Linked DNA regions of Homo sapiens: region 2 is linked to region 1. The links come from fine-mapping of genetic effects on gene expression. A gene starts in region 1. The other region holds a variant in brackets. All regions are shown on one strand. Distances are from middle to middle. Region 1 holds the start of C8orf33 (chromosome 8 open reading frame 33). Region 2 has its middle 18 kb from the start of ZNF252P-AS1.

Region 1 (10,045 bases):
GGCTCATGCCTGTAATTCCAGCACTTTGGGAGGCCAAGGTGGGTGGAACATCTGAGGGCAGGAGTTTGAGACCAGCCTGGCCAGCATGGTGAAACTCTGTCTCTACTAAAAATACAAAAATCGGCCAGGGTTGGTGGTGGGTGCCTGTAATCCCAGCTACTCAGGAGGCTGAGGCAGCAGAATCACTTGACCTCAGAGGGAGGAGGCTGCAGTGAGCTGAGATTGTGCCACTGCACTCCATCCTGTGCTACAGAGTAATACTGTGTCAAAAAATAAATAAATAAAAGTTCTTACTGGAGAGAAACCTTATGAATATTATGAATGTGGGAAAGCTTTTATCCAGAAATGTATTAAGTACCAAAGATTTAATATCTCATGAATACAGAAAGTATGAGAAAACCTTTGCACAGAGCTCACACCTAATTCAGCATCAAAAAATTCAGTGGAAAGAAGTCATAAGTATGTAATTACTGTGGAAGAGCTTTCCATTCAAAATCACACCTTATTCAGCAGCAGATAATTCACAGTAGAGAAAAGGCCCGTGAATGCAATCAATGTGGAAAGCCTTCAATTGGAGCTCAGCACTTGCTAAAAATCAGATAATTAACACTGGAGTGAAACCTAATGGATGTAATGAATGTGGGAAAACTTTCATCCAGAGTTTAAATCTTATTCTGTCAGAGTTCATGCTGAGAGAAACCATATGAATGTAAATGAATGTGGAAGAGCCTTTAGTTACAGGTCACACCTTATTTCACATCATAGGATCCACACAGGAAATAAGCCATATGAATGCAAGGAATTTGGCAAAAATTCCCATCCAAATTTGTACCTTATTTGACATCAGGATATTCATCACAGAGAGAAATTACAGGAGTGTAATGAATGTGGGAAGGTGTTTGGTCAGAATCCAACCCTTGTTATACATCAGCAGATTCACATTGGAATGAAATCTGATAACTACAGTAAATGTAGGAAAGTTTTTTTGTAGATTCATAGCCCCTGCAGAACCTAAGGCAGTTCCAGGTAAAGAGAAACCCTATGGGTACAGTGAATATGGGAAGACCATACAGAATTCATACCACTTTCTGGATCAAAAAGAATCAAAGAAGAGACAAAGCCTATGAATCTCATGCATGTGCAAAAACCTTATATTATGTGTCAAAACTTATTAAGTATCAGGGTATGTAGTCTTTAATAGTTTAGAGCCTGTTCAGTAGCAGAAAATCCACTCTATCAATAAACTTTATGAACATAAATACTGTGACAAAGTCTTCAGGCTAATTTTAAGTTTAAAAAATCAGGCTTTATCATAGAAAAAAATGAGAAAAAAATAAAAGTAAAATGTGATCCAAACTTGTAATTATGTTAATGGAGACACAGTATATATAAACATATTTAGATATATGTTTTCTTTCTTTCTTTTTTCTTTTTTTTTTTTGAGACTAGGTCTTTCTCTGTCACCCAGGCTGGAGGGTGGTCGTAGAATTTTGGCTCACTGCAACATCCGCCCCTGCACCATCCCCCTTCCCACCGCTGCCCAAAGCAATCCTCCTGCCTCAGCCTCCCAAGTAGCTGGGACCACAACCGGCTAATTTTTTAAATTTTTTGTAGAGACCATGTTGCCCAGGCTGGTCTCAAACTCCTGGGCTCAGGCAATCTGCCTGCCTTGGCCTCTCAAAGTGCTGGGATTATATGCGGAGCCACTGTGCCCAGCCTGGATATCTGTTTTCTTAAACTGTGTCCTTCAAGGTCAGGGTACTTCTCTTGTTCTTTCACCGTACCCATCCCATTGCCTTATTCATTCAGCCCCTTAATAAATATTTTGGTGTGATTTGCTAACTATGGAAAAATCTTTTCTGAAGACTCATGTTTCCTGCCACAAGAGGAACCATAGAAAATATAGCACTGGAAAGGCAACAGTTCAAATCCAAGGTTATTCATGATTACATCAACCTACAATTACTGTGCAGCCCCTATGTGCCTGGTAGTGTGCCTGACAATGGCAAATCAGAGATGCAGAAACACTTGGCCTCTTTTCCTCATATCTCTCAGTCTAGTTGGGATACAAAGGTATGTAGAGACAGATAACCACATCAGTACAGTAATAGAGGTAAGAATACAGGGTTGAGTGGGGTCCCAGAGGTGGGAGAGGTCTACAGAGATGGCTCATTTTCAAAATTCTGAGAGACAATAACTGTTAACCTCAAATTGTGTTTCTATCCAAACTATCCTCCAGGAATTAGAATAAAAATAGGCATTTTCAGATGAGCAAAACCCAAAACACCATAACAGATTTCATTAAAGGAGCTTTAAAAGGATGTACATTTAAAGAAATGATATCAGAACTGAGATATAAGGAATGATGCCAGGCATGGGAGGCTGAGGTGGGAAGATTGCTTGAGCCCAGGAGTTCAAGACCAGCCTGGGCATCCTGGTGAGACCCCATCTCTACAAAAAATTACAAAATTAGCTGGTATGATGGTGCATGCCTGTGGTCCCAGCTACTTGGGAGGCTGAGGCAGGAGGGAGGATCAGTTGAGCCCAGGACAACCTAGGTGACAGAGTGAGACATGGACTCTAAGAAAAACAAAAGTTGTATATTTGAAAACACTGACTGTAAATAGAATTAAGTCTAATATGGCAGATTTAAAAACAAAGATAGAAATGAAGTCAAGACAAAAATAGCATATGAGTCAGGAAGGTAATGGATAAAATCAGAGCATTGAAAGTGAGGCAGGATAGGTAGTCAAGGAAGTAACCATGTCCTCGGGATGCAGCAACTGTTGTGACTGTGCAATCAGCACAATAAGCCTCTGCCTTCACATTGTGGTTAAGCTCTTTCAAGCAAAACTATCTTCAGTAGAGAATTTCCCCTGCAAAGAGCATGTACATTTTGATTTTACCTGTCCTCAGACTGACCTTTCGCTCATTATAATAGTAAAAAACAGAGCCCTGGTTGGAGGTTTAAGATGCTAATAAGACATGTGACATGTACGAACAATCATATACCAGCATGTAGAACAAGCATTGTATGACAAGAAGCATTGTATGAACAAGCATGTAAGAACATACAGCTACCGCACATGTGCACTCAGAGGACCATCCAGAACATACTCACTAGTAGCACCTCTTCCCAATTCCTTATGAATAATCATGTAAGACCCCCATAAAGGGAGTCTCCCTCATGCGTCTTTGCTGCCCCAACCTTATGAGCAGCTGGCCCTCAATCCTCTCTCTCTCTCTCAGGGTGTACTGTCTATTGTTCACTTAACTTTCCAAATATTCTTTCTCCTTTGTAATAAATTACTGTATGCCGCATCTCCTTTACTGCGTGTCCCGTTTAAATTCTGCGTGTTTTTTTTTTTTTTTTTTTTTTAGATGGAGTCTCGCTCTGTCACCCAGGCTGTAGTGCAGCGGTGCGATCTTGGCTCACTGCAAGCTCCACCTCCCGGGTTCATGCCATTCTCCTGCCTCAGCCTCCCGAGTAGCTGGGACTACAAGTGCCCGCCACTATGCCCGGCTAATTTTTTGGTATTTTTTAGTAGAGACGGGGTTTCACTATGTTAGCCAGGATGGTCTCAAACTCCTAACCTCGTGATCCGCCCGCATCGGCCTCCCAAAGTGTTGGGATTACAGGCGTGAGTCACCGCGCCCGGCCAATCCGCCGAATTTTGGGAGTAATGTATCACACTGCAGTAAATAACTATCAGTGATGACCAAACTGTAACCCTTCGAGACCTTGCAGACCAGGCAGCTAACACTTCCCACCCCACCGTCTCAGGAAACACCGCTTTCCACTCCTGTGTCCCCGAAAGGAATCATCAGACATCTCGGACTCTTACCTTCTCAAGCAACACAACCCACCCTCCTGGCATAGCCCGTTGCCCCCCTGAAACCCTACTCAGCCTCACCTCAACCCCTACGCAATTCCTCTCGGTTGTCATGCCTCCATCGGCGGGGGTCGAGTGTTGTGTGTGACCCCAGGTCTCTAGCAAGGTATAGTGGGAGGGAAGCATCCAGGGGAAGAGAGGTGGTGGGATGGGGCTCTCCCTCTCCCCCATACCGCCACCCTCCCTCACGTCCATATCCTGTCCAAGGCTCTTCCCGCGTCTGCTTCTGAAACCCCTCCACGTCCCTCCACCCCATGTGCCCCACTCGTTACACAAGAGCAGAGAGATCTGCAGAACATACGTCTACGATTATGCCACTCTTCAGATTTACATCTTGCAGCGACTTCCCACTGCGTTAGAACGGAAGTAAGCCCATGACGGGGGCCCTCCCAACTCTCAGACCTCACCCGAGCCTCCACGTCCCGAGACGCCGGCCTCTCAAACGACCGCGCCCTGACCCTCGCTCTTCCCCATTTCCCAGGGTCTTTGCCGACCACCCTCTTGCGCCGTAGCTGCTCACGTGCTGTTTACTTGCTTTTCCCTCCCCACCAAAAGGTGAGCCTTGAGAAGACACACCCTCGTGGAGAGCTTTGAACTTTTATCCGGAAAGGTGCCGGGCACGTAGTCAGCGCCCGCGATCACTCGCTCACAAGGGTTCTTCCGAGACCCCTCTTCAGCCTCTTCCCCGAACCCCCAGGCCCCGCCCCAGCCCCATCTCAGCTTCGTCCCAGGCGCGTCCCAGCTTCGCCCCGTCCCAGCTTCATCCCACCCCAGCCGCGCCCCGCCCCGCCCGCTCCCCGCCCCGCCCGCGCCCCGCCCGCGCCCCGCCCCGCCCGCGCCCCGCCCGCGCCCCGCCCGCGCCCCGCCCGCGCCCCGCCCGCGCCCCGCCCGCGCCCCGCCCGCGCCCCGCCCGCGCCCCGCCCGCGCCCCGCCCGCGCCCCGCGGAACCTAGAGTCGCAGGCGCGTTCTTGAAGGACGGAATTCGGCGTCGGACTCTGCGCCCCGCGTAGTTCCGGTGGCGACTGCGGCGCATGGCGGTGAGCGGTGTGGAGAAGACGCGCGGGTGGCTGGGCCTTGCATTGTTGGCGGCTCTCGGTGACCCTCGTGCTACCCCCCTTTCTCCAGGCCCTGGGACATCTTGCTGGGGAGGCAGCGGCGGCCCCAGGCCCGGGTACTCCCTGCGCGTCCCGCGGAGCCCGGCTTCCCGGCCCAGTTTCCAGCGCCCGGAATCCTTCCACTGTCTGTCTCTGCCCAGAGCAACCTACGTGCAGTAACGCTGACTCCAGAGCGCACCCGTTGGGCGATGAAGGCGGCACAGCGTCGAAAAAACAAAAGAATAAGAAGAAAACGCGGAACAGGGCCTCTGTGGCAAATGGAGGCGAGAAGGCCTCAGAGAAACTCGCCCCAGAAGAAGTTCCCCTAAGCGCTGAGGCCCAGGCAAGGGCGGGCTTCGGTCGGGAAGGGTGGAATCCACGGGTGCGAATCCACGGGCACGTGTGATCTGGGGTCCGCGGAGTTAAGGCGGGGAGGGGCATGGGATGGGGCCGGCGGCTATGGTTTTCCAGTGCCCTCTCACAGCCACTTCCCCAAATCCATCACAGGCACAACAGTTGGCCCAGGAATTGGCTTGGTGTGTGGAGCAACTGGAGCTGGGCCTCAAGAGGCAGAAACCCACCCCGAAACAGAGTAAGGGACCCTTCTGTAGAGCTGGGGGATGTGAACAGTGGCACTGCCTGGCCTGCAGGTGCTGGCAGAGTATGGAGTTGTTGGCTTTGCGGCGGGGTGGTAGGAGGTCAGTAATAGAGGTGTTCACTAGTCCTTTATTTTTATTCGCAGAAGAGCAGGCTATTGGAGCAATCCGAACCCTGCGCAGCAAAAGAACGCCCTTGCCCCGGAAGAGGCAGCTGATGCACTCCTTGTTTGGAGACTATAGGGCTCAGATGGAAGCCGAATGGCGTGAGGCCCTGCGGGCTCTCAGAGCTGGTGAGGAGCTAGCCACTGGTTGATTCAGGAAGGCCTAACTTAAGGAGGAAGTGTCTAGGGGGTGAAAGGAAGAAGGCCCAGAGCAACAAGCCTGGTGGGGGAAGGAGATGGGCTCAGGGAAGCCTGAGGGAGCAGGGAAACAGAAAGCGTGGACCTCTCTTTCCTCTTCCTAGGACTGAACCTGGGAAGCAGCGGGGAGGCCCTGGGAGGAGTGGGAAAGAGCATGGTCCTATGTTGGTCCTGCTCCTGGGTTGGGGAAAGCTGCCTCATGTCTTTGTGTCTTGGCTTTCTCTACTAGCAATGAAGCCATATCCCATAACAGTTTGAGTGCAATTCCTGGGGCCAGATCAGCTAGGTTCAAATCCTGGATCTACCACATAGTAGTACTAACACCTTTTGCAAACTACTGAACCTCTCTAAGTGGGGGATGATAGTAATATCAACCTTACAAATTTGAGGAATTAATCAGTTAATTTATGCAAGGTGGTTAGAATTGTATGGGCAAACATAACTGTACAGGTAATGTTAATTGTTATTATTCAGTTCTGACATACGCTGCTTCTCTCCCCGACAGCTGCTTATTCAGCCCAGGTGCAACCTGTAGATGGAGCCACCAGAAAGAAGAGCCAAAGGGTCTGCAGGCCTCGCTCTATATGGAGAGCCAAAGCCACTCTGGACATGCCTGATGAAGAGTTTAGGTTCAATTTCTTTTAGCGTCTCCCCGAACCTGAAACAATCCCCCTCCCTTGGGGTGGTGTAGGGGTTTGTTTTGAGTGCAGAGCCTTTCCAGGACTTCTGTTGTCAGAGAACCCTGGAGTTGGTCTGTCCCTGGCTGGTCCAAGGATTTGTAGCTGTTGTGAAGGTGTGAGACCATCAGATAGGCAAAAGACCCCGTTCGTTTTCTGATGAAATGTTCTCTCTTTCAGAAGAGAGAGAGAGGTGCATTTAGAAAATATGCAATAAATTGAAGTGAGTGTTCAAAGTATTGTAGAAGGAATATTGTACTCAGTCTTTAGGATTAGATTAAGTGGCTGTTGGTAACAAAGATTAGTGGAGAAGCTGTATAATCGTACACTGGTTTTCACTTTTGAAAGGAATCCCTGTCAAATGGTTTAGTGCTTAATGCTGTTATGTCATATTGCCCTAATCTCTATTTTTGATAAAATTGGATAAGGAGTGAAAGAGTATGCTGACCACCTATGTTAGAGGAAGTACAGAAGATGCAGGGGTGTGGTATCCCTGGGTCCAGTCCCTCACCTGGTACCTTTGTGCATGTTGCCTTCATTCCTGAGCAGGTATCATCCTCAGGGAACCAGCATGGCACCTACCAGGCCAGGCTCTGTTCTTAGGAGCAAGGAGCTTCTTGCGCTAACAGTTCTGGCCTGAGACCTGGATTGAGCCTTGGCAGACTTCTTGTCTAAATGTTGGCCATTCAGTCTCAGGCCCTCTGTTCCATGGAATTGGGAATCTCCAGGTGACCTAATCCTCATTGGTGGCTTGATGTTTGCTGGTATCTTCCAAACTCAGTTCCCAGACTAGATTGATACCTGGAGCCCAGCTGCCTACTCAGCATTTCCACTTGGGTGCTTCATAGGCATTTCAAACCTGATGTGTTTAAAACACTTGATTAGGCTCCGGTTTTCCTTTGGCTTCTGCTTTTCAGTGAATGGCATGACTGCCTATGTGGGTGGCAAGCCACCCAGGTGCCGAGGAAAGAGACTGAGGGCACGAGCTGTTCCAGTATAATAAAATATATAAAATAAGAAGAGTTATACTAGATCTAGATCATAGACATGATTATATGTGAGTATCATTAATCATTAGTTTATAGCAATTACTCTTTATTCCAATATTATAATAATCCTCACTCTACAATCATAACCTAGGAAAAACCAGGCCATACAGAGATAGGAGCCGAGGGGACATAGTGCGAAGTGGCCAGAAGACAAGAGTGTGAGCCTTCTCTTATGCCCGGACAGGGCCACCAGAGGGCTTGGTCTAGCAGTAACACCAGTGTCTGGGAAGATGCCTGTTGCAAAGTGGACCATGGTCTAGCAGTAGCATCAGTGTCAAGGAAAAACACCCACTACTTAGCAGACTGGGAAAAGGAGCCTCCCTTTCCCCGGGGGAGTTTAGAGAAGACTACTCCTCCACCTCTTGTGGAGGGCCTGACATCAGTCAGGCCCGCCCGCAGTTATCCAGAGGCCTGTCTCCCTGTGATGCTGTGCTTCAGTGGTCACGCTCCTAGTCCGCTTTCATGTTCCATCCTGTATACCTGGCTCTGCCTTTTAGATAGCAGGAGCAAATTAGTGAAAGTACTAAATGTCTGATATGCAGAAATAATGGCATAAGCTGTCTCTCTCTCTTCTCTCTCTCTCTGCCTCTGCTGCCAGGCAGGGAAGGGCCCCCTGTCCAGTGGACACATGACCCATGTGACCTTACCTATTATTGGAGATGGTTCACATTCCTTACCCTGCCCCTTTGTCTTATATCCAATAAATATCAGTGCAGCCTGGCATTTGGGGCCACTACTGGTCTCCGCGTCTTGGTGGTAGTGGTCCCCCAGGCCCAGGTGTCTTTTCTTTTATCTCTTTGTCTTGTGTCTTTATTTCTACAATCTCTCATCTCTGCACATGGGGAGAAAACCCACTGACCCTGTGGGGCTGGACCCTACATCTGGCGCTCTGATGTGGGGCTCTCCCTCGCTGTGTGAGGTTGCACTCTGAGTGCGGGATTCAGCGGAGGATTTTGACAAGAGATTCCTGAGGATTGCTGTTAGTAAGCTTGGTGGTAAGCTTGAGCACTCAGAGTATTCTGGGGACACCATGGTACAAGCCAGTACTAAGTACTCAGCTTATTTAAATTTTATAAAAACTCTTCTTAAAGAAGGAGGGGTTTAAGTTTCTACTGAAAAGTTAATTGAACTATTTGCGGTTGTAAATCTTCTTTGCCCTTGGTTTCCGACTGAGGGAACTTGAGAACTTAAAGATTGGGATGAGATCGGCCAACAATTCAAAATTGCTCATAAAGGGGGACATTTTATTCCACCCACCATTTGGTCAATCTGGGCTTCGGTTCGCTCTGTCCTAGACTCCTTACAGACTCAGGACAGCATGGAGACTGATCCCTCTTTCCTCTCCCTGAGGAGGGCGAGGAATTTCTCACTTCTCTTTCCCCTGAGGATACTGCACAAATTGAGACCATAATTTCACAGGCGGAATTCCACTCTGACATGCCTGTGCCGCCACCACGTATGCAAGAGGCTACCGCACCCCCGTTGTCGCTTTATGATGATCTTTTAACTGACCCGAATGAACTTATTTCCCCCAACCAGCAAAACTCAGCTGAAACATGCCAACAACCATTGTGGACGCACCCCCCTGCTTCTCCTCACCCTGTCAACGCTGCCACCCTGCAGACAGAGGATGAGATCAGGCAGCCTGAAAACGAGGCTATAAATTGTTTCCATGCAGCCCGGTACAGAGGCTCTGATACCTGAACAGCCCGGAGAGGAGGCTTTCAATTCTCGGCCAGGTAATGAGGCCCGCAACGATATCCCTCCACAGCCTGGTTTTCTCATGCCTGGTCTTTTCCCCCCAATCAGACTCCGGTAGAACCACAGGCTCCCTTCAGGCCTGGTTCCTTTACTCCTAATCAGACTCGCTTAGAGTCATAGGCTCCCTTGAGACCTGGTTCTTTTCCTCCTACTCAGACTCGGCAAGAGTCACAGGCTGCCTTGAAGCCTGGTTCCTTTCCTCCTAATCAGACTTGGCTAGAATCACAGGCTCCCTTGAAGCCAGGTTCTCTTTCTCCTAATCAGACGTGGGTAGAGTCACAGGCTCCCTTGAAGCCTGGCTGCTTTCCTCCTATTCAGACTCAGTTAGAGTCACATGCTCCCTTGAGGCGTGGTTCCTTTCCTACTATTCAAATTCGGTTAGAGTCACAGGCTCCCTTGAGGCCTGGTTCCTTTCCTCCTACACAGACTCGGCTAGAGCCACAGGCTCCCTTGAGTCCTGGTTCCTTTCCTCCTAGTCAGACTCAGAGTCACAGGCTCCATTAAAGTCACAGGCTCCCTTGAGGCCTGATTCCTCCTAATCAGACTCAGTTAGAGTCACATGCTCCCTTGAGGTGCTGTTCCTTTCCTCCTACTCAGACTCAGAGACACAGGT
Region 2 (10,045 bases), 31 kb before region 1:
GGTCTAAAATTCTCTTTTTTGTGTGTGTCTCTGCCAGGCTTTGGTATCAGGATGATGCTGGCCTCCTAAAAGGAGTTAGGGAGGATTCCCTTTTTTTCTATTGATTGGAATAGTTTCAGAAGGAATGGTACCAGCTCCTCCTTATACCTCTGGTAGATTTTGGCTGTGAATCCATTTGGTCCTGGACTTTTTTTGGTTAGTAGGCTATTTATTATTGCCTCAATTTCAGAGCCTGTTATTGGTCTATTCAGAGATTCAACTTCTTCCTGGTTTAGTCTTGGGAGTGTGTATGTGTCGAGGAATTTATCCATTTCCTCTAGCTTTTTTAGTTTATTTGCATAGAGGTGTTTATAGTATTCTCTGATGGTAGTTTTGTATTTCTGTGGGATTGGTGGTGATAACCCCTTTATCATTTTTTATTGCATCTATTCTTCTCTCTTTTCTTCTTTATTAGTCTTGCTAGTGGTCTATCAATTTTGTTGATCTTTTCAAAAACTAGCTCCTGGATTCATTGATTTTTTGAAGGGTTTTTTTGTGTTTCTATCTCCTTCAGTTCTGCTCTGATCTTAGTTATTTCCTGCCTTCTGCTAGCTTTTGAATGTGTTTGCTCTTGCTTCTCTAGTTCTTTTAATTGTGATGTTAGGGTGTCAATTTTAAATCTTTCCTGCTTTCTCTTATGGGCATTTAGTGCTATAAATTTCCCTCTACACACTGCTTTAATTGTGTCCCAGAGATTCTGGTATGTTGTGTCTTTTTTCTCATTGGTTTCAAAGAACATCTTTATTTCTGCCTTCATTTCGTTATGTACCCAGTAGTCATTCAGGAGCAGGTTGTTCAGTTTCCATGTAGTTGAGCGGTTTTAAGTGAGTTTCTTAATCCTGAGTTCTAGTTTGATTGCACTGTGGTCTGAGAGTTTGTTATAATGTCTGTTCTTTTACATTTTCTGAGGAGTGCTTTACTTCCAACTATGTGGTCAATTTTGGAATAAGTGCGATGTGGTGCTGAGAAGAATGTATATTCTGTTGATTTGGGGTGGAGAGTTCTGTAGATGTCTATTAGGTCTGTTTGTGCAGAGCTGAGTTCAATTCCTGGATATCCTTGTTAACTTTCTGTCCTGTGGATCTGTCTAATGTTGACAGTGGGGTGTTAAAATCTCTCATTATTATTGTGTGGGAGTCTAAGTCTCTTTGTGGGTCTCTAAGGACTTGCCTTATTAATCTGGTTGCTCCTGTATTGGGTGCATATATATTTAGGATAGTTAACTCTTCTTGATGAGTTGATCCCTTTACCATTATGTAATGGCTTTCTTTGTCTCTTTTGATCTTTGTTGTTTAAAGCCTGTTTTATCAGAGACTAGGATTGCAACCCCTGCTTTTTTTTGTTTTCCATTTGCTTGGTAGATCTTCCTCCATCCCTTTATTTTGAGCCTATGTGTGTCTCTGCACATGAGATGGGTCTCCTGAATACAGCACACTGATGGGTCTTGACTCTTTATCCAATTTGCCAGTCTGTGTCTTGTAATTGGAGCATTTAGCCCATTTACATTTAAGGTTAATATTGTTATGTGTGAATTTGATCCTGTCATTTTGAGTTAGCTGGTTATTTTGCTCATTAGTTGATGCAGTTTCTTCCTAGCATCGATGGTCTTTACAATTTGGCATGTTTTTGCAGTGGCTGGTACTGGTTTTTCCTTTCCATGTTTAGTGCTTCCTTCAGGAGCTCTTGTAAGGCAGGCCCAGTGGTGACAAAATCTCTCAGCATTTGCTTGTCTGTAAAGGATTTTATTTCTCCTTCACTTATGAAGCTTAGTTTGGCTGGATATGAAACTCTGGGTTGAAAATTCTTTGCTTTAAGAATGTTGAATATTGGCCTCCACTCTCTTCTGGCTTGTAGAGATTCTGCTGAGAGATCCACTGTTAGTCTGGTGGGCTTCCCTTTGTGGGTAACTCGACCTTTCTCTCTGGCTGCCCTTAACATTTTTTCCTTCATTTCAACTTGGGTGAATCTGACAATTATGTGTCTTGGAGTTGCTCTACTTGAGGAGTATCTTTGTGGCATTCTCTGTATTTCCTGAATTTGAATGTTGGCCTGCCTTGGTAGGTTGAGGAAATTCTCCTGGATAATATCCTGAAAACTGTTTTCCAACTTTGTTCCATTCTCCCCATCACTTTCAGGTACACCAATCAGATGTAGATTTGGTCTTTTCACATAGTCCCATATTTCTTGGAGGCTTTGTTCCATTTCTTTTTACTCTTTTTTCTCTAAACTTCTCTTCTCACATCATTTCATTCATTTGATCTTCAATCACTGATACCCTTTCTTCCAGTTGATTGAATCAGCTACTGAAGCTTGCACATGTAGTTCTCGTGCCATGGCTTTCAGCTCCATCAGGTCATTTAAGGTCTTCTCTACCCTGGTTATTCAGTTAGCCATTCGTCTAATCTTTTTTCAAGGTTTTTAGCTTCTTTGTGATGGGTTCAAACATCCTCCTTTAGCTCAGAGAAGTTTGATCATCTGAAGCTTTCTTCTCTCAACTCATCAAAGTCATTCTCCATCCAGGTTTGATCTATTGCTGGTGAGGAGCTGCATTCCTTTGGAGGAGAAGAGGTGCTCTGATTTTTAGAATTTTCAGCTTTTCTGCTCTGGCTTCTCCCCATCTTTGTGTTTTTATCTACCTTTTGTCTTTGATGATGGTCACGTACAGATGGGGTTTTGGTGTGGATGTACTTTTTGTTTGTTAGTTTTCCTTCTAATAGTCAGAACCCTCAGCTGCAGGTCTGTTGGAGTTTGCTGGAGGTCCACTCTAGATCCTGTTTGCCTGGATATGACCAGTAGAGGCTACAGAATAGCGAATATTGCAGAATAGCAAATGTTGCTGCCTGATCATTCCTCTGGAAGCTTCATCTCAGAGGGGTACCCGGCCGTGTGAGGTATCAGTCAGCCCCTACTGGGAGGTGCCTCCCAGTTAGGGTACTCAGGTGTCAGGGAGCCACTTGAGGAGGCAGTCTGTTTGTTCTCAGATCTCAAACTCCATGCTGGGAGAACCACTACTCTCTTCAAAGCTGTCAGACAGGGACATTTAAGTCTGCAGAAGATTCTGCTGCCTTTTGTTCAGCTATGCCCTGCACCCAGAGGTGGAGTCTGCAGAGGCTGGTAGGCCTCCTTGAGCTGCAGTGGGCTCCATCCAGTTCAAGCTTCCCAGCCGCTTTGTTTACCTACTGAAGTCTCAGCAATGGTGGGCGCCCCTCCCCCAGCCTTGCTGCCACCTTGCAGTTCGATCTCAGACTGCTGTGCTAGCAATGAGCAAGGCTCCATGGGTGTGGGACCCTCCAAGCCAGGTGTAGGAAATAATCTCCTGGTGTGCCATTTGCTAAGACCATTGGAACAGCACAGTATTAGGGTGGGAGTGACCCGATTTTCCAGGTGCCATCTGTCACAGCTTCCCTTGGCTAGGAAAGGGAATTCCCTGACCCCTTGCACTTCCCAGGTGAGGTGGTGCCTTGCCCTGCTTCAGGTCTCACTCGGTGGGCTGCACCCACTGTCCTGCACCCACTGTCTGACAAGCTCCAGTGAGATGAACCTGGTATTTCAGTTGGAAATGCAGAAATCACCTGTCTTCTGCATCGCTCATGCTGGGAGCTCTAGACTGGAACTGTTCCTATTTGGCCATCTTGGAACCTCCCATGTAGGTTACCATTTTTAGGGGTGGTCACTGTTGAGCCTCCAAGTCCTATTCCCTTAAAATGGAAGACCCAAAATCCTGTTTGGGTTGAGCTGTGGCCACTTACTCAGGAAAAATTGGGGGCCTTACAGGAATTAGTCAAAGAGCAATTAAACAAAGGAAGCATTGAGCCCACATTTTCTCCATAGAATTTGCCGGTGTTTGTAATAAAGAAAAAATCCAGCAGATGGCGCATGCTAACCGACTTACGTGTGGTGAACACATTCATTCAGCTGATTGGGGCCCTGCAGCTGGGGCTTCTATCCCCCACCATGATTCCTAGAGACTGGCCATTAGTAATTATAGATTTGAAGGATTGCTTTTTAAATATTCTTCTAGCAGAGTCTGATTTTGTGAAATTTGCTTTTACTATTCCTGCTATGAACAACAAGGAACCAGCAGCCAGATATCATTGGAAAGTCCTGCTGCAGGATATGTTGAATAGTCCTACTATTTGTCAAACTTTTGTGGGGAAGGCTATTCCACCTGTGAGAGATCAGTTTCCTGATTCATATATCATTCATTTTATGGATGACATATTGGGTACGGTCAAAAGTTAAGACTGACTTATCCAGTGTTATTCATATTTACAGGAGGTGGTAGCCAATGCTGGATTGCTCATAGCACCAGATAAAATTCAAACATCCACTCCTTTCCAATATTTGGGAATGCAGGATCAGGAAAGGGCAATTAGACCCCAAGAGGTTCAAATTCAAAAAGACTCTCTGAAAACTTTAAATGATTTTCAAAAATTATTAGGGGATATCAATTGGATTTGACCTCCTTTGGGAATCCCTACCTATGCTATGTCTAATCTGTTCTCTATTTTAAGAGGTGACCCTGCTCTCAATAGTAAATGAGAACTGACTCCTGAGACTGCCAAAGAATTACAAATGATTGAAGAAAAAATACAACAGGCCCAGGTTAATAGAATAGACTCAAATTTACCATTACAGTTCATTGTGTTCCCTACTCTCCATTCTTCTACAGGGGTTACAGTTCAGAGTGAGGACTTAGTTGAATGGTCTTTTCTGCCTCACAATACTGTTAGAACACTCACAGTATACTTGGATCAGATGGCAATCTTGATTGGGCAAGCTCACCTTAGAGTTGTTAAACTTTGTGGCTCAGATCCAGATAAGATTATAGTTCCAATGAATAAAAATCAGATTTGGAAAGCCTTTGTTAATTCAGTCAATTGGCAAATAGATTTAGCTGGCTTCATTGGAGTTCTTGATAATCTGAAGGGGTGGCCTGCCCCTCCACACCTGTGGGTATTTCTAGTCAGGTGGGATGGGAGACTGAGAAAAGAAATAAGACACAGTGACAAAGTATAGAGAAACAACAGTGGGCCCAGGAGAGCGGCACTCGGCACACCAAGGACCTGCACCGGCACCGG[T/C]CTCTGAGTTCCCTCAGTTTTTATTGATTATTATTTTCATGATTTCAGCAGAAAGGAATGTAGTAGGAGAGCAGGGTGATAATAAGGAGAAGGTCAGCAAAAAGCATGTGAGCAAAGGAATCTATGTCATAATTAAGTTCAAGGGAAAGTACTATGCCTGGATGTGCACATAGGCCAGATTTATGTTTCTCTCCACCCAAACATCTCAGTGGAGTAAAGAATAACAAGGCAGCATTGCTGCCAACATGTCTCACCTCCCACCATAGGGCGGTTTTTCTCCTATCTCAGAATTGAACAAATGTACAATCGGGTTTTATACCAAGACGTTCAGTTCCCAGGGGCAGGCAGGAGACAGTGGCCTTCCTCTATCTCAACTGCAAGAGGCTTTCCTCTTTTACCAATCCACCTCAGCACAGACCCTTTACGGGTGTCGGGCTGGGGGACAGTCAGGTCTTTCTCATCTCATGAGGCCATATTTCCGACTATCACATGGGGAGAAACCTTGGACGATACCCAGCTTTCAAGGGCAGAGTTCCCTGTGGGTTTCTGCAGTGCATTATGCCTGTGGTTTGTTGACACTAGAGAATGGCAATGACTTTTGCCAAGTATACTGCTTGTAAACATTTTGTTAACAAGGCACATCCTGCACAGCCCTAGATCCCTTAAACCTTGACTTCATACAACACATGTTTTTATGAGCTCCAGGTTGGGTCAAAGTGGCTGGGGCAAAACTACAAATTAACAACATCTGAGCAAAGCAATTGTTCAAAGTACAGGTCTTTTTCAAAATGGAGTCTCTTATGTCTTCCCTTTCTACATAGACACAGTAACAGTCTGATCTCTCTCTCTTTTCCCTACATATCCCCCTTTTCTTTTTGACAAAACCGCCATCATCATCATGGTCCGTTCTCGCTAGCCGCTGTCTCTCCGGAGCTGCTGGATACACCTGTAGACTAACAATAGAGAGGACAGACATACAAGGATTAATACAAAATTTGCAATAGTGGAATTTCCAATGGTTTTAACCCAAGTGACAGGTTTAAGATTCGTGAGGCTATCAACAGCTTTTTCCATTGCCTCAGTTTCTGGCACCAAATTTAACTGGGCTTTGGATGTTTTAAAAATTTGTTCTTTCAATTTTGAAATATCTAAAGTAAGATTATCTTCTCTTCCTTGTAGATGGCATCTAACCATGTCCCAGTGATGTTCAGATTCATTATAGGCTTGAGGTGTAATACAAAAATCTGATGTATTGTAGTCACACAGTAACTGAAAAAGATATTCCAAACTTATGAGCCTATCTCCCATCCAAATGACAGTTTGTCTAAGATCATTAATTTGATTTGCCAATTTTTGATCTATTTGAGTCTGAGAATTCCACAATTTTGAGGAATTCTTTTGCCAATTATTCACATATTCTGCAGTGTGAACAGAGGAGGGTAAAGCAATTACAGCAGCCCTAGCAGCAGCTGTGACTGCAATAAGACCCATAATCACTGCAATTAAAGTAAAAATGAATCTTTTAGATCTAGTTAGAACTCCTTTTAATACTTCTGTTAAGATATGTACGGATGGAGAAGCCTCCCACGGTCGGTCCATGGACACAGGGATCCTCGCACCCTCTCTTGCCCTCACTAACAGAATACGATGCTGCCAATCAAAAGTTGAATCAATGCAAGTAAACAATCTACAATTTTCACAGGTTATAGTTTGGGAATCTGGTTTAATAACTATGTTTCCTACAACTAGCATATGAGGGGGTTTTACATAACTTTGCAAAGGAATTGTCGGATTGGATTTTAGGTTAATAGTAAAATATGGTTTATGATTTCTTGTTCCCATAACTTGATTTCCAGACCAAATTCTAATGTGGTATGAGGCCACAGTGAGCTTCCATAATTCTGGGTGTTCAGGAGCAACAACAGGACTAACTAACTTTGGGCGGGGTGATGAAATCCCCTTTTCACCCCATTTCCATGGATAGGGTGATTCTAGCCTTCTATAAACCTGGTCTAGCCTTTTAGTTAAATCACTATCATAGGCCGGATTAGTGGGCCAGACTGATGGAGCCTGTGAACATGAGTGGGTCTGGCCTGTACTATCATAATATAATTGGCCTCAAGCGGCCCAGTTTATAATAGTTCCAAATTTATTGTTTTGTAATACCACCGCAGTATCAGCCACACATTCTTCCCAAACTAAGACTTCTGAGTCTTTTTATTCTTTTGGAATTTCCTTGGGGCAAGATTTTCCCTTAAGCCTAAATTTTAATGATCTTTTATAGGAAGAATCCTGTAAATTATTTATTTGTGACCCGAGTGACATTTCACTTACCTGTGATAAGTGAATTTACTGGTAGCACTGACAGTAGGTACTTCTACCAACCAATTTTGGTTTGTAGGCATTAAGCATCCCGGTGCTTTTCCCAGGCAAATAGGAGGATAATGATACCCAATGGAAATGTTTATCATCATTCCTTCTTCTTCAGGTTGGGCAGGGCCACGGTCATCTGTGGGGCCTGGTACCCATGCACTATTATTAACATATACTTCAATAGGATTATCTATCCAAGTGACTGCCCGAATTAAGGGTCGGAAAGGCACATAGGCCCAGTAAGTATAGTTAGCTGTAGCGGCTCCTGCAGACATAGGGAGACTTACCACCATTGATACAATCATTAAAGCTGCAAGCAGCATATTCTCTGGAGTTTGTGTTACCCTTGTGTTTTTCAGACTTTTTTCAGCTAACTGTGTCAGCTTCTTTAGCTGGGCCCAGGTTGGCGGCTCCGCTTTCTTGGTGGATGGCAACTTCATCTGTTCTTCTGATATCACCATTTTGTTCACCTGGTGGGTCGATGATGCTCAACTGCAGGTTTTTTGTCTCTGTGGAGGCACTTTTATTTGCATTTCTGATGGGATGGGTTTATTGTAGAACTTCAAATGTCTAGTGGGTATCCAAACAGGAAGCTGATTTTCTCCTGGTGAAACACAAGAAAAACCTCTCCCCCATGTTATCACCTTCCCTGTTTCCCAAGTTTTACTTTTGTTGTCTTTCCACCAAATCAGTTTTCCCTCATGTGGGCTGTTCTTTTTACCAGTAAAATGTTGTTCTGCAGAAGTAGTGGTCTGATTTCTATAAATGTTTAAAAAATTTAAAGTATAGGGTGCTAGATTAAGTTCATCTGGGAAGTGTTATACTCCTTACTGTCTTTTTCCCTTTTTTGTTTAACCAATTGAGCTTTGAGTGTTCTATTAGTTCTTTCAATTATGGCCTGTCCTTGGGAATTATAAGGGATTCCTGTTGTATGTGTAATTTTCCACTGATTTAAGAATTTTTGAAATGCTTTACTACAGTATCCTGGCCCATTATCTGTTTTAATTTTTTCTGGAACTCCCATGACAGCAAAATAAGATAATAAATGTATTTTAACATGGGAAGTACTTTCTCCTGTCTGGCAGGTTGCCCATATGAAATGTGAATAAGTATCAACTGTCACGCGGACAAATGACAATTTTCCAAATGAAGGTACATGTGTGACATCCATTTGCCATAATGCATTAGGACATAAATCTCTGAGATTAACTCCTGCCTCCTGAGTGGGCAGGTGTAAGACTTGACACTGAGCACAATGTTGTACAATATTTTTTGCCTGTTTCCATGTGATATCAAATTTATTTTTTAATCCTGTTGCATTTACATGAGTCAGGACATGAAGTTCTTGTGCTTCCATCAAGGCAGATGATACTAGCAAGTCAGCTTGTTCATTTTCCTTAGTTAATTGCCCTGGTAAATTAGTATGTGCTCGAATATGAGTAATATAAACTGGGAAATTTCTTTTTCTTACAGTTTGTTGTAACAATTTAAACAGATGATTTAACTGATAATCCATACTATATTTGATTAGAGCTTTGTAGCCTTTGTAGCCTGTACTATATATGCAGAATCTGAAACAATGTTAATAGGCTGATTAAAATCTTGTAACACTGAAGTGACAGCAACCAATTCTGCTCTTTGAGCTGAGTGATATTGAGTTTCAATGACTCATTCTTTTGGCCCAGTGTAAGCCACTTTTCCATTGCTGAAACCATCAGTAAACACTGTCAGAGCATTTTCTAAAGGTTTTTGTCTGGTAATTTTAGGTAAAATCCAAGTAGTCAATTTTAAAAACTGGAAGATTTTTGTTTCTGGGTAATGATTATCAATAATTCCCACAAAATCAGCTAGACCAATCTGCCATGCAGCAGAATTGATAAAGGCTTGTCTAACCTGTTCCTTGTTTAAAGGAACAATGATTTTATCTGGGTCACTTCCACACAATTTTACTATTCGTAGTCTTGTCTGACCAATTAATGTAGCCATTTGATCTAAGTACAATGTAAAAGTCTTAACTGTACTGTGAGGAAGGAATGACCACTCCACAAGATCTGTATTTTGAACAATAATGCCTGTTGGAGAATGTGCAGTAGCAAAAATCAAAAATTGGAGTGGGGCTAAGTGATCTATTCTATTTACTTGTGCTGAATTAATTTTTTCTTCAACTAATTCAATTTCTTTAGTTGCCTCTGGAGTTATTGTTCTTTTACCATTCAAGTCTGGATCCCCTCTCAAGATAGAAAACAAATTTGACATGGCATAAGTAGGAATGCCTAGAGTTGGCCCAATCCAATTAATATCTCCTAGCAATTTTTGAAAGTCATTTAATGTTCTTAATGTGTCTTTTCTTATTTCTATTTTTTGTGGTTTAATTTTTCTTTCCTCTACCTGCATTCCCAAATAATTAAAAGGAGTGGAGGTCTGAATCTTATCAGATGCTATTGTCAGGCCTGTGTTTGCAACCTCTGTCTGCAGAAACATGTAAAAGTCAATTAATTTGTCTCTTGTTTCTGCAGCACACAAAATATCATCAACATAATGAATGATATAAC

Evidence for each region. PIP is the estimated chance that this variant, and not a neighbour inherited with it, causes the effect.
Region 2: its variant is fine-mapped to the expression of C8orf33 in blood mononuclear cells (TOPMed, PIP 0.99).

Annotation. Positions count from the first base shown.
Region 1 is chr8:145,047,568-145,057,612 of GRCh38, forward strand. C8orf33 (chromosome 8 open reading frame 33) reads left to right here and starts at 4,900. Exons shown (of 5, transcript NM_023080.3): 1 at 4,900-4,930; 2 at 5,019-5,330; 3 at 5,495-5,579; 4 at 5,730-5,876; 5 at 6,451-8,463. The coding sequence starts at 4,925. The coding sequence ends at 6,590. It also overlaps the pseudogene LOC100419763. RefSeq lists enhancers at 4,326-4,455, 4,496-4,545, 5,474-6,274 and a silencer at 4,756-4,825.
Region 2 is chr8:145,016,281-145,026,325 of GRCh38, forward strand. It overlaps the pseudogene LOC124902043. Among named protein-coding and RNA genes, the nearest start is that of ZNF252P-AS1, 18 kb to the left of the region's middle. The variant T/C (reference allele first, on the strand shown) is at 5,121.